Linked DNA regions of Homo sapiens: region 1 is linked to region 2. The links come from fine-mapping of genetic effects on gene expression. A gene starts in region 2. The other region holds a variant in brackets. All regions are shown on one strand. Distances are from middle to middle. Region 1 overlaps AGO3 (argonaute RISC catalytic component 3). Region 2 holds the start of ADPRS (ADP-ribosylserine hydrolase).

Region 1 (5,375 bases), 33 kb after region 2:
ATATATGAGTGACTGAAAATTAGGTGAGAGAGTACATAGAGAAAGGGTATCTACAGTCATTCCCTAAAGTTTCCCACATGAATCTGTGCAGCTCCCATGATAAAGGAAGATGTTTTACTCACACTGATCAAGCATAGACGAATTAAATTTTTATCATCTTGGGTATACTATTTTCTTCTCTTGCCCATGATCCTGACTATATTCAGTAAAATTTCAGTGTAAAAAAATCCATCTTTATAGGAAATTTTTCTGGAGGAGATGGGAGAAGGCTGGGAGAAAAAATGTATATACGATACAAATATTACCTTTTGTAAAGTTCTTTGCAACAGTGTTGTAAATTGCATTTCAGACACTTCAAAATAATAAACATACAAAATACAGTACTTTCTTAGTTTTCTGGCAGAGGGACAAAAGATTTCATGCCTGTCAGAGGACATGGGCTCAGATTTTAGGCTCAAAATACAGTGAATTGGCAATAATAGTGGATTACAGGTAAGAGAGAAACTAAAGATCTAAATCCATTAGGTTTCACGTGCAGATGGAATTCTGAAAGGCTAACAACAATGCCCACTGGAAACAATCTGTAGTATCTATACTCTGAACCAGTGCAAAAAAAAAAAAAATCAAAATGCAATTTTCATGAGTTACAAAGTGCAAAGCTCCCCTGAATCCAATGTTACTGATAAACTCAGTTTTGATAGCTTTATAGTACTTTTTAATACCTTAAAGTGTAATCAATAAAAGTTTTGTAAAACAATTTCCCACGTTTCAGTGATTTAACTGATTTAAAATGATCAAAGTCCTAACTTCCTTTGTTACTATCACCTTAATTTTAAAAGGAAAGTTATACTGGTGATACATTAGCAAAAGTTTTAAAATATCATCTTGCATTTTCCTGATTCATTTTAGTAAATGAAAATGGGCATCTAGCCAATATGATTCTTCAATAAACACAATCTATTTGCAAATAATTTAAATATGTTAAGCTATTCACAATTATATAAAAGTTCAACTTTATTTCTAATATTCAAGTTGGACTCATTTAGGCAATTTCACTTCATTTTCATTATGATTTTTTTTTCTTTTGAGACGGAGTTTTGGTTTTGTTGCCCAGGCTGGAGTGCAATGGTGCAGTCTTGGCTCACTGTAACTTCCGCCTCCTAGGTTCAAGCAATCCTGCCTCAGCCTCCCGAGTAGCTGGGATTAGAGGTGCCCACTACCACGCCCAGCTAATTTTTGTATTTTTAGTAGAGACGGGGTTTCACCACGTTGGCCAGGCTGGTCTCAAACTCCTGAGCTCCGGTGATATACCTGTCTCAGCCTCCCAAAGTGCTAGGATTACAGGCATGAGCCACCGCGTCCAGCCTTTTATCATGATGAATTTTAAAAGATATGCTTTAAAACTGAAAATTACAAAACTTTCCTTCTGAAATTAAGGCTGTATTCTTTGCCCTTTTAAACTATGGAGGTGCCTGTTCCTCCTACTATCCATGGTAAAGATGCAGACACAACTTTCCTTTAAAACTGCTTATTGCACTAAAAGATAGCAAAAACAAGTTGTCAGTTCTTAAAATAAACATGATTATATTTCTATAAAAGATGCTGCCAATACAATTCTATAATTATTAAAGCACTATTCTAATAAATATAAAAGAAAAGGAAGCTATACTTCCAAACACATACATATGTGTTTATATACACACACATACATATATATATATAAAAAATATATGAAAATCACATTAAGGTATGAGAGGCAGCAAGTAAACTATCAAAAAACAAAACAAAAAAATCCCTCAACAAACTCTTCTCTCTACTCAATTTCAGAGGTCTCAACCCTACAGAGCTCTAATCTTTTAAAATATTTACCCTTTATAAAACCTTTAAAGAATTTCCATGTATAACCCATAGAAACAGAAGGCTTCAGAATACACATCACTTACCAGAGAGAAAGTTACAACTTCTGACAGGTTTTATATTTATAGCAGCTTTAACAAACTCACTAAAGAAAAAGAATAGTAGGCCGGGTGCGGTGGCTCATGCCTGTAATCCCAGCACTTTGGGAGGTCGAGGCGGGTGGATCACAAGGTCAAGAGATCGAGACCATCCTGGCCAACACGGTGAAACCCCGTCTCTACTAAAAATACAAAAATTAGCTGGGTGTGGTGGCACATGCCTGTAAACCCAGCTACTCGGGAGGCTGAGGCAGGAGAATTGCTTGAACCCGAGAGGCGGAAGTTGCAGTGAGCCGAGATCTCGCCACTGCACTCCAGCCTGGTGACAGAGCGAGGCTCTGTCTCATTAAAAAAAAAAAAGAAAGAAAAGAAAAAGAAAAAAGAAAAAGAATAGTTCAGGTTGCTACTGCTTATATACAAATTGCGCAAATGGTAAATGTATGTTCTGAGTGGGAGGGGAGAGACGCACTCTCACAGAAAGTTATTTTATGTATATATATGTGTGTGTCTGTGTCTGTGTATGTATGTATACATATATATATAAAATTTTGTTTCTTAAGACAGCAATATCAAGAGTTGAGAACTCAGAATTGTGTATGAGATAGGAGTCAGGAGTAGGGTATGCAAAATAAAAGTAGAATTCTAGTTTGCCATATTTTATATTCAAACGAACCAGATACATCAACATTTGAATGTCACTGGTAGGACTGGGAAAAAAATGTAGGTGATGAAGGCAAGGGAAATAGAGAAATAAAGGCGGTAGTGGGGGTAGAATAAAAGGGAAAGAAAATTCCCCAATGGAATGAACTCTAAAATATATAACAGACACATATATATCTATTATCAATCCAGATCTAGATATATATGCATATGAAGTATGGATGTATATATTTTAAAAATACACAGACACCTTTTACAAGAATATATGAATGCACATTAATTTTTTGCACACATAATTCTGAAAAATCACTTTGATTATTCATGAAGGTGTGTATTTTTTAAACCATCATTTACTTTTTCTTTACTTTTTTTTGCAAAGATAGTTGTGCTGCCAAGCAACTTGAGGTAAAGGCATTAAAAGGGTTAGACTACAAGAAATGAAAACAAAACAATTGCGATAC[T/C]TCCTATAGGAGACCGCACAAAAAGCAGTTGGCTGGTTTCATATTGCATAATGATGCTGTGTTCCTTGATGAAGTAAACAATCTTCCTTGTATTAACATAAGGATCAGACCTTGGCCCCCACACAGTGTTGGTTTCTGTATGGCTGGAGGTGTCCTTACTCAATTGACTTCACTGGAAACATACGTTGTATGTCAATTCATCTTTCAGTACTTCCTCTCAGAGAATATACTTGGACTATTTAAGCGAAGTACATTGTGCGTAAGGTATCTTGGTGAATCTGTACAGCCTTGGCAAGAGCTTGTGGATCTCGCCCATTGCTTTGTCCTGAAACGTGACTTCCTTCAGCACTGTAAGAGAAGTGGCAATGAACACAAAAACAAACTTTCTATTCTGATGTAATAATTCCGAAAAATACTATTTGTTGTAGAAAATTTCAAAATTATTAACAAATAAGAGACTGGTGTAACAATCTATGTGTCCATCACTCAGCTTCAATCACTATTAACTCAAGGCCAATTTTGTTTTACTTCTCTCACCTCCCCAGAATTAATTAGAAGCAAACCTAGATATCGTATCATTTTGTCTATCTGTCTGAATGTATCACTTTATTACCAATAATCTCTCCTTTGAATTAATGTAGTAAAACAACTAAGTTACTACATGATTCTATTACTAATGAGCCTAGACAATATATTTCAATAGGAAACCTTGGGCAGTCAGTTCTGTCATCATTTTTCACATGGATCACTGACTCCGCTAATAGCTTGTGGAACTTGAAAATCCTACCATGCAGACAATATTGGGATTTGGGTGAGAACCTGTTATGCTTTTATATTACCTGTCATGTTCTTTGTCCACAAGATGATATCTGGCTCTAAATGCTACCAGGTGAGCATAATACGCTGGTGCAGGTATAGAAACAGATCGTGTACAGCGTACGTAAGTGTGGCAGAGCTGGTAAGTTAGCAGCTGAAGTTCATCTGCAGTAAAGCAGTTATCATCCCATAAAACATGATAGTGTGAAGGACGACTGGTACCCTATAGAGAAGGCAATGACATACACTGTTGAATTTTGAACTCTTTTTGTTTTGTTTTGTTTTTTGAGACAAAGTCTTGCTCTGTCACCCAGGCTGAAGTGCAATGGCGTGATCTCAGATCACTGCAACCTCCACCTCTGGGGCTCAAAAGATTCTAGTGCCTCTGCCTCCCCAGTAGCTGGGATTACAGGCATGTGTGATCATGCCCAGCTAATTTTTTGTATTTTTAGTAGGGACAGGGTTTTGCCATGTTGGTCAGGCTGGTCTCAAACTCCTGACCTTAAACGATCTGCCTGCCTCAGCCTCCCAAAGTGCTGGAATTACAGGCGTGAGCTACTGTGCTGAGCCCAATTTTGAACTTTTTAATAAATATTTAATACCAAGTCACATAAAAAACAGGTTTGGCACTTTGGGAGGTTAAAGTGGGAGGGTAGCTTGAGGCCAGGAGTTCAAGACCAGCCTGCACAACACAGTGAGGCTCCATCTCCACAAAAGGTAAAAAAAAAATTAGCCAGATGTGGTGGCATGCACCTGTAGTCCCAGCTACTTGGGAGGCTGAGGCAGGCAGATCACTTGAGCCCAGGAGGTCAAGGCTGCAGTGAACTATGATCCCATCATTGCACTCCAGCCTGGGTGACATAGTGAAACTTTGTCTCAATAAATAAATAAATGAAATGAAATAAAATAAAATAGAAAAGTAAAGCTGGGAAGATGTATAAAGAACAGTTTTTAGTCTCTGTGAAATATTATTGGTTATTTGCTGACTACAGCAGAAGTTTCAAACTGATATCCTAAAGGAAATCTGTTCAGGCTGGGCATGGTGGCTCATGCTTATAGTCTCAGCACTTTGGGGAGGCTGAGGTGGGAGGACAGCTCAAGCCCAGGAGTTTGTGACTAGCCTAGGCAACATAGGAAGACCTCATCTCTACAAAAAGATTTAAAAAATTAGCCAGGTGTGGGCCAGATGTGGTGGAGATCAAGACCATCCTGGCTAATATGGTGAAACCCCATCTCTACTAAAAATACAAAAATTAGCTAGGCGTGGTGATGCGTGCCTGTAAGCCCAGCTACTCAGGAGGCTGAGGCAGGAGAATCGCTTGAACCAGGGAGTTGGAGGTTGCAGTGAGCCGAGATCGCACCACTGCACTTCAGCCTGGTGACAGAGCGAGACTGTCTCAAAAAAAAAAAAAAAAAAAAAAAATTAGCCAGGTGTGGTGGTGTGGACCTGTAGTCCCAGCTAGGTGGGAGGCTGAGGCAGGAA
Region 2 (5,372 bases):
GCTTGAGAAAGTGCTCGCTGGAAGACTCGCCCTGCAAGGCCAGGTGCACAGCCAGGGCCTGCAGGATGGCGCCATTGTAACCCAGGGAGGAGGCGTGTGTCAGCTGGGCCGAGAGCCGGGCAAACTAGGGAGGAGGAGACCTGCTGTCACAGAAGCCCTGCTGCAGAAGAGGAAGGGGACAGCCCAGAAGCCAGCCCGCCCTGAATACCTTCTGCACATCCTGGACACTGCTATAGGCCAGGGAGATGCCAGCCACCCGCATGGCACCTCCATTGCCATAGGAGCCTTTCCCGTTAAACTGGGCCCGGGCAGGCTCAAAGACATCGCGACATTTGGGGTTCAGGAGCTTCTTGAAGACAGTGACTACTCCAGCACCATAGCCCCTGTCAGGGTCTTTCTTGTACTCCTGAGCAAATCTAGGGAACAGAAGGGGAGACAGAATTCAGATTTACAAGATGCCTCTAAGGGTTGGGAGAGAAGAAATCGAGGCTAGTTTGGAAAAAGAGAAAGCCTCGGGGGCCTAAGGAGCCTGCACCAGCAGTGCTGCTGTTTTAGCTTGGGAAGCTGTGCCAGCCTGACACAGGCTTCTGTGGAGGGTTGGGGGCGTGGACATGCACAAATGTCATTCCTCTGGTCAAGGGGTGCAATAACTTTCCCACCTGGTTTGCCTCAGCCCAGGACCATCCCCCTCACCTGTGAGCCATGTCCACCTCGTCAAAGGCCTCCTTGGCTAGCAGGGACTGCACCAGGGCCCTGGCCATGGCTGTGTCATCTGTGTAGTACAAGGCTTCTGTGGGGAGAGGAGGGAGGATGAGAGCCTCCTGCTCACCTTTGTTTTTTTTGTTGTTGTTTTTTGCTTTTTTTGGAGACAGAGTCTCGCTCTGTTGCCCAGACTGGAGTGCACTGGTGCAATCATGGCTCACTGCAGTCTTGAACTCCTGGGCTCAAGCTATCCTTCTGCCTCAGCCTCTCAAGTAGCTGGGACTATAGGCATGCATCATCACACCCAGCTACTTTTATTTTTTTGTAGAGACAGGGTCTCACTCTGTTGTCCAGACTGGTCTTGAATTCCTGGGCTCAAGCAATCCTCCTGCCTTGGCCTCCCAAAGAGCTGGGATTATAGGCCTGAGCCACTGTGCCTGGCCCTGCTCACCTTTTATTTTAGTTTATATTATTATTTTTTTGGTACAGGGTCTCACTCTGTTGCCTAAGCTGCAGTGCAGTGGTACGACCATGGCTCACTCCATCTCGACCTCCCAGGCTCAAGGAGCCTCTTGCCCCAGCCTCCCGAGTAGCTGGGACTACAGGTGCACACCACTGCGCCTGGCTTTTTTTTTTTTTTTTTTTTTTTTTTGTAGAGATGGAGTTTCATCCTGTTGCCAGGCTGGTCTCAAACTCTTGGGCTCAAGTGGACTCTCCCAAAGCGCTGGGATTACAGTTGTGGCTACGGCACCCAGCCTCTACTCATGTTTCAGAGTTACCACATCTAAAATGACCTCAAATCAGTTTCTCACTCCCATTCACTTTCGTGGGCCTGGGAAGCCTTAGGATCTCAGCAATGGGATTTTCAGCAATTCTTTATTCCAAGTCAGTCCTGCTGCTTTCTATTTTATGTATTTATTTATTATGAGCCTACATCATGGTTTGATCTTCTGATTTCTGAAAGAAAACTTCCATCCCCTTGTGGCTGCCATCCTTGCAGCTCCAGTCTTTTTGTTTTTGTTTTGTTTTTCTTTTTTATAGACAGGATCTTGCCATGTTGCCCAGGCTAGTCTCGAACTCCTGGACTTAAGCGATGATCCTTCCACCTCAGTCTCTGGAGTAGCTGGGATTATAGGTGTGCGCCACCATACCCAGATTGAAAATGATAGTTTCTGGATCCAGATCTCCTCCTACTTCACTTCTCTGGAGCACACCACCAGTGATCAGTGTCTTCATTTTGAAATTCTTTTCCTAGGTTTCGTTGATAGCCACTCCTGCTTCTCCTCCTATCAAACTGTTTCCTTCCCTAATCCCCTTCCCTCCCTCCCTCCCTCTTAATTACCGGTGTTCTCCAGGGTTCTGACCATGGCCCTTTCTTCTTACTATGCTACCTGCTCTCCAAGAAGATTCACCTCCTCTGCTTGACCTCACACCTGCTACCTGAGCCGGGATCTGAGCCCACAAGGGAAGGGAAGTTAGTTTTACAGGCGAGACAGCGCATGCAAACGCCTGGCCTAGAGGAATCATGGTGTGAGGAACCGAAGAGCAGAAAGCAAGGCCAAGGCTGGCGGAAAACGAAACTGCAGACGTGTGGGAGGGCCGGACCACGTCGGACACGTTAAGGAATGTGGCTCTGTACTAAGGGTAATGGGAAATCACAGCAGGGTTTTAGGCAGGGGAGGACGCGATTAGAGTCAGGCTTCCAAAGCACGCCTTGCGGGGTGGAGAACGGGCTGGTGGTATACTGACTCTAGAGAACCGGGAAAAAGAGGTCAAGTCGGCAAGGGTGGACAGACAGTCCCCGACTTAGGATGGTTCAACTTAAGTTTTTTTCGGCTTTCTGATAACGCTGATACGCATTCATAGGCTCCTCGACGTCCGATGGGGCTGCGTCCAGATAAAACGGTCGTCTAAGCTGAAAGCGCACTTTCCACTTCAGGTATTTTCAACTTACGATGGGTTTATCCACACCCTGCACGGTTGAGGCCCCGGTGCTGCCACGCCCCGAGCACGGGATGTTCGGGGCGAGACGTCTATAAGGCCGGAGATCGCACTGGCACTCGCTGAGCTCAAGCTGTCTGCGGGTCATCCGGCTCTGGCCCCGGTGCCCTCGGCAGCCTCATCCCCGCGCACCCCCGACCCGTCGCCCCCGGAGGCTCCGCGCCCCTTCGGCCTCCCTCCCGCACGGCCTCTGACTTGCGCCCGGCCCCGCCCACCTGTCCGCTCACTCCCGGGCGTGCCGGGGTCCGGCTCCAGACTCTGGACATGACGCAGGACTGACGTCAGGTCGACGGTGTCGTGGGCCTCGTAGAAGGAGCCCACGCAGTCCCCGAGCAGCGCGCCAGCCAGGCAGCCTCGGAAGCGCGAGAGGGAGCGGGCCGCGCCAGCCCCTCCACCTGCCGCTGCCGCCATCGCCGCTGCGGCCATCCGCGCGCAGACTGCTCGCCACTTCCGGTGCCGCCCTCACAGTTTCCCTACTTCCGTCCGCAGCGCTCCCTGGGGCCTAGAGTTTCCACTCCGCCGCCAGGCCCACAGCGCCGCCCAGCGGCCCGGAGTCGCGGCGCCGCGCACTTCCCGCCAGCCTGTGCTTTGAGTCTCGGTTTTCCGCTCCTCACCACTGGGCTAACTGGGTGGGAAGGCCACTATGGGGTCTCCGGGGGATGGGCACTGAGCCAGACCATTGGATCACTGCAGCCCACACTGCCTTCCGCAGGCGAGCAACCCTAACTCCGCACCCCCAGCCGGCCCTCCCCACCGAGGCCGGGACCACCCCCAAGCCCTCCCACCGGGCCCTTGCCCCCTGTGGGCCTCCCTTAAGCATCAGGAGGGCGGACCAGGGGCCAACTGGGACACAGCCAGGTAGAGGCCGCGCTGCTGCAGCCCAGGAGTGCTGACCCAGCCCAGAGAGGGGTGCCCTGAGGGGAGGGAAAGAACTGGATTTGGTACATGGAGTTCGGAGGAATAGTGTTCCCCATCTTTGCTCCTCCATAGACAGGAGGGTGTTCAAGAACCCTCTCCCTGCTGGCTACATACAGTGGGGCAGAGAACAGCCGGCCTGAGATCCTCTGCATTTATTCCATTCATTTCTCTCCTCCCTCCTTCCATTGCCCACCCAACCCTGCCCTCCTCCTGCAGTCCTCCAAGGCTAGGCCAGCTCCAGCTGGCAGCTTTTGAGTGGACTCAGGGTGCTATTTGTGGTACGTGTGAAGGTGTCCACCTCAGGCACGAACCTCTCAGCAGGCACGGTCAGCTTGCGCCGTGTGTCCATGCACTTGGTGTCCAGCAGCATGGAGTTGGCCTTGCAGGCAATGTCAGCCTGCAGCCGGGCCAGGTGCTTGCACAGGGCGTCCAGTGCGTCCCTAGGGAAGGACATTGACAACCCCCCAGCCCCCATGAGGCTGGGAGGCCTGGGCTGCGTGCATAGCCTTCAGTCAGGAAGACAGCCCCAGGGAGCCAGCAGCCAGCAAGAGGCCCCATTTGTGGGCAGCGTCTCACTGCTCCTTCCGCCCACTCCCGAGACCTACTGTGCTTGCGCCAGCTTCTGCTTCAGGGCAGCGATGGTTGCCTCTAGCTGGTGAACCTCGTCGGTGAGGCCGTACTGTGCCTGGAGGCAGAGGGGTTGGGAGTTCCAAGTCAGCCACACTGTCCTTTACCTGAGTGCTGCCCCTTGACAGCAGTGCCCTTGCTCCATCAGGAATATGAGAAAACCTTGGCTAGGGGGCCCGTGCGCCACTGGGACACCCTCTCACCTGGTCCCGGCAGAGTTCCACGTTGGGCCGGTAGGTTCTGGCCTCTAGCCGGGTATGGGACAGCTTCAGGCTCAGGAGCTTTGTGCGCAGATCCTCCTCCAGGTGCCGGATGTCCTCCTGCAGCTCAGCGATCTCCTCCAAGGTCTGCAGGGGACAGAGTGACTGGTTTCCACCTGCTGGACTCACGTGCATGCCTGGTCCAGTGCCTCCTGGCGGGGGCATGCGGCTTCTCATCCCACAGCAGGAAGTCCAGGCCCCTGGAGATGCTCACATTCTTCTCTTGCCACTTGAGCTCACTGTACACTTTCTCCATCTCCCGCAGCCGCTTCCTGAAGGCAAATTCCGTTGCAACTCTCTGGGCTTCAAGCTCGTTGTTGGTCTGAAGGAGAAAACACAGGGCAAGGGGAGGGTCTACACTCAGGGCTGCCTGAGGATATTACTCAAGCGAGGGGCAGGGGGCCACATGCACAGCAGGGAACAGAAGATAAGGGCTGAGCGCACACTGGGACCATCCATTAGCTGTGGGTGGCCTGTCACCTCAGCAATAGTTAGAGCAGTGGCCTCCCTCAGCTCTGTGGCTGCCTTCATCTCAGCCTCCGCTCGGTCCTTGTTGAACCGACTGAAGTCATCCCACTGCTGGAGTGTGGTGGAGCTGCAGGTGGCAGGGAAAATGGGGGTCATGAGGGTGTGGCCTGGGAGGGGAGGAGAAGAGACTGGCTGAAACACTCTTCTTACCCATCAGGTACACGTGTGGGGTCAACCTTCAGCGAGATGTTTGGGGATCTGAGGTTGAGAGAGAGACAGCCTCTGTCGATCTCTAGTGTCTCCATTTTGCCCCGATGGTCGGAGTTGAGCTGCTGTTGGACTTCCTGCAAGAGGCTGGGGAAAGCGCAGACTCCATCAGGACCATCCCCCAAGGGC

The links. PIP is the estimated chance that this variant, and not a neighbour inherited with it, causes the effect.
Region 1: its variant is fine-mapped to the expression of ADPRS in whole blood (TOPMed, PIP above 0.99).

Annotation. Positions count from the first base shown.
Region 1 is chr1:36,053,686-36,059,060 of GRCh38, reverse strand. It overlaps AGO3 (argonaute RISC catalytic component 3), which reads right to left. Exons shown (of 19, transcript NM_024852.4): 18 at 3,916-4,115; 19 at 1-3,424. The coding sequence ends at 3,316. Among named protein-coding and RNA genes, the nearest start is that of TEKT2, 28 kb to the left of the region's middle. The variant T/C (reference allele first, on the strand shown) is at 3,077.
Region 2 is chr1:36,086,662-36,092,033 of GRCh38, reverse strand. ADPRS (ADP-ribosylserine hydrolase) reads right to left here and starts at 3,142. Exons shown (of 6, transcript NM_017825.3): 1 at 2,919-3,142; 2 at 694-790; 3 at 209-416; 4 at 1-124. The coding sequence starts at 3,129. It overlaps TEKT2 (tektin 2), which reads right to left. Exons shown (of 10, transcript NM_014466.3): 5 at 5,187-5,330; 6 at 4,989-5,103; 7 at 4,723-4,830; 8 at 4,452-4,595; 9 at 4,227-4,306; 10 at 3,759-4,061. The coding sequence ends at 3,848. RefSeq lists enhancers at 2,469-3,053, 3,054-3,639 and silencers at 2,695-3,124, 3,235-3,324.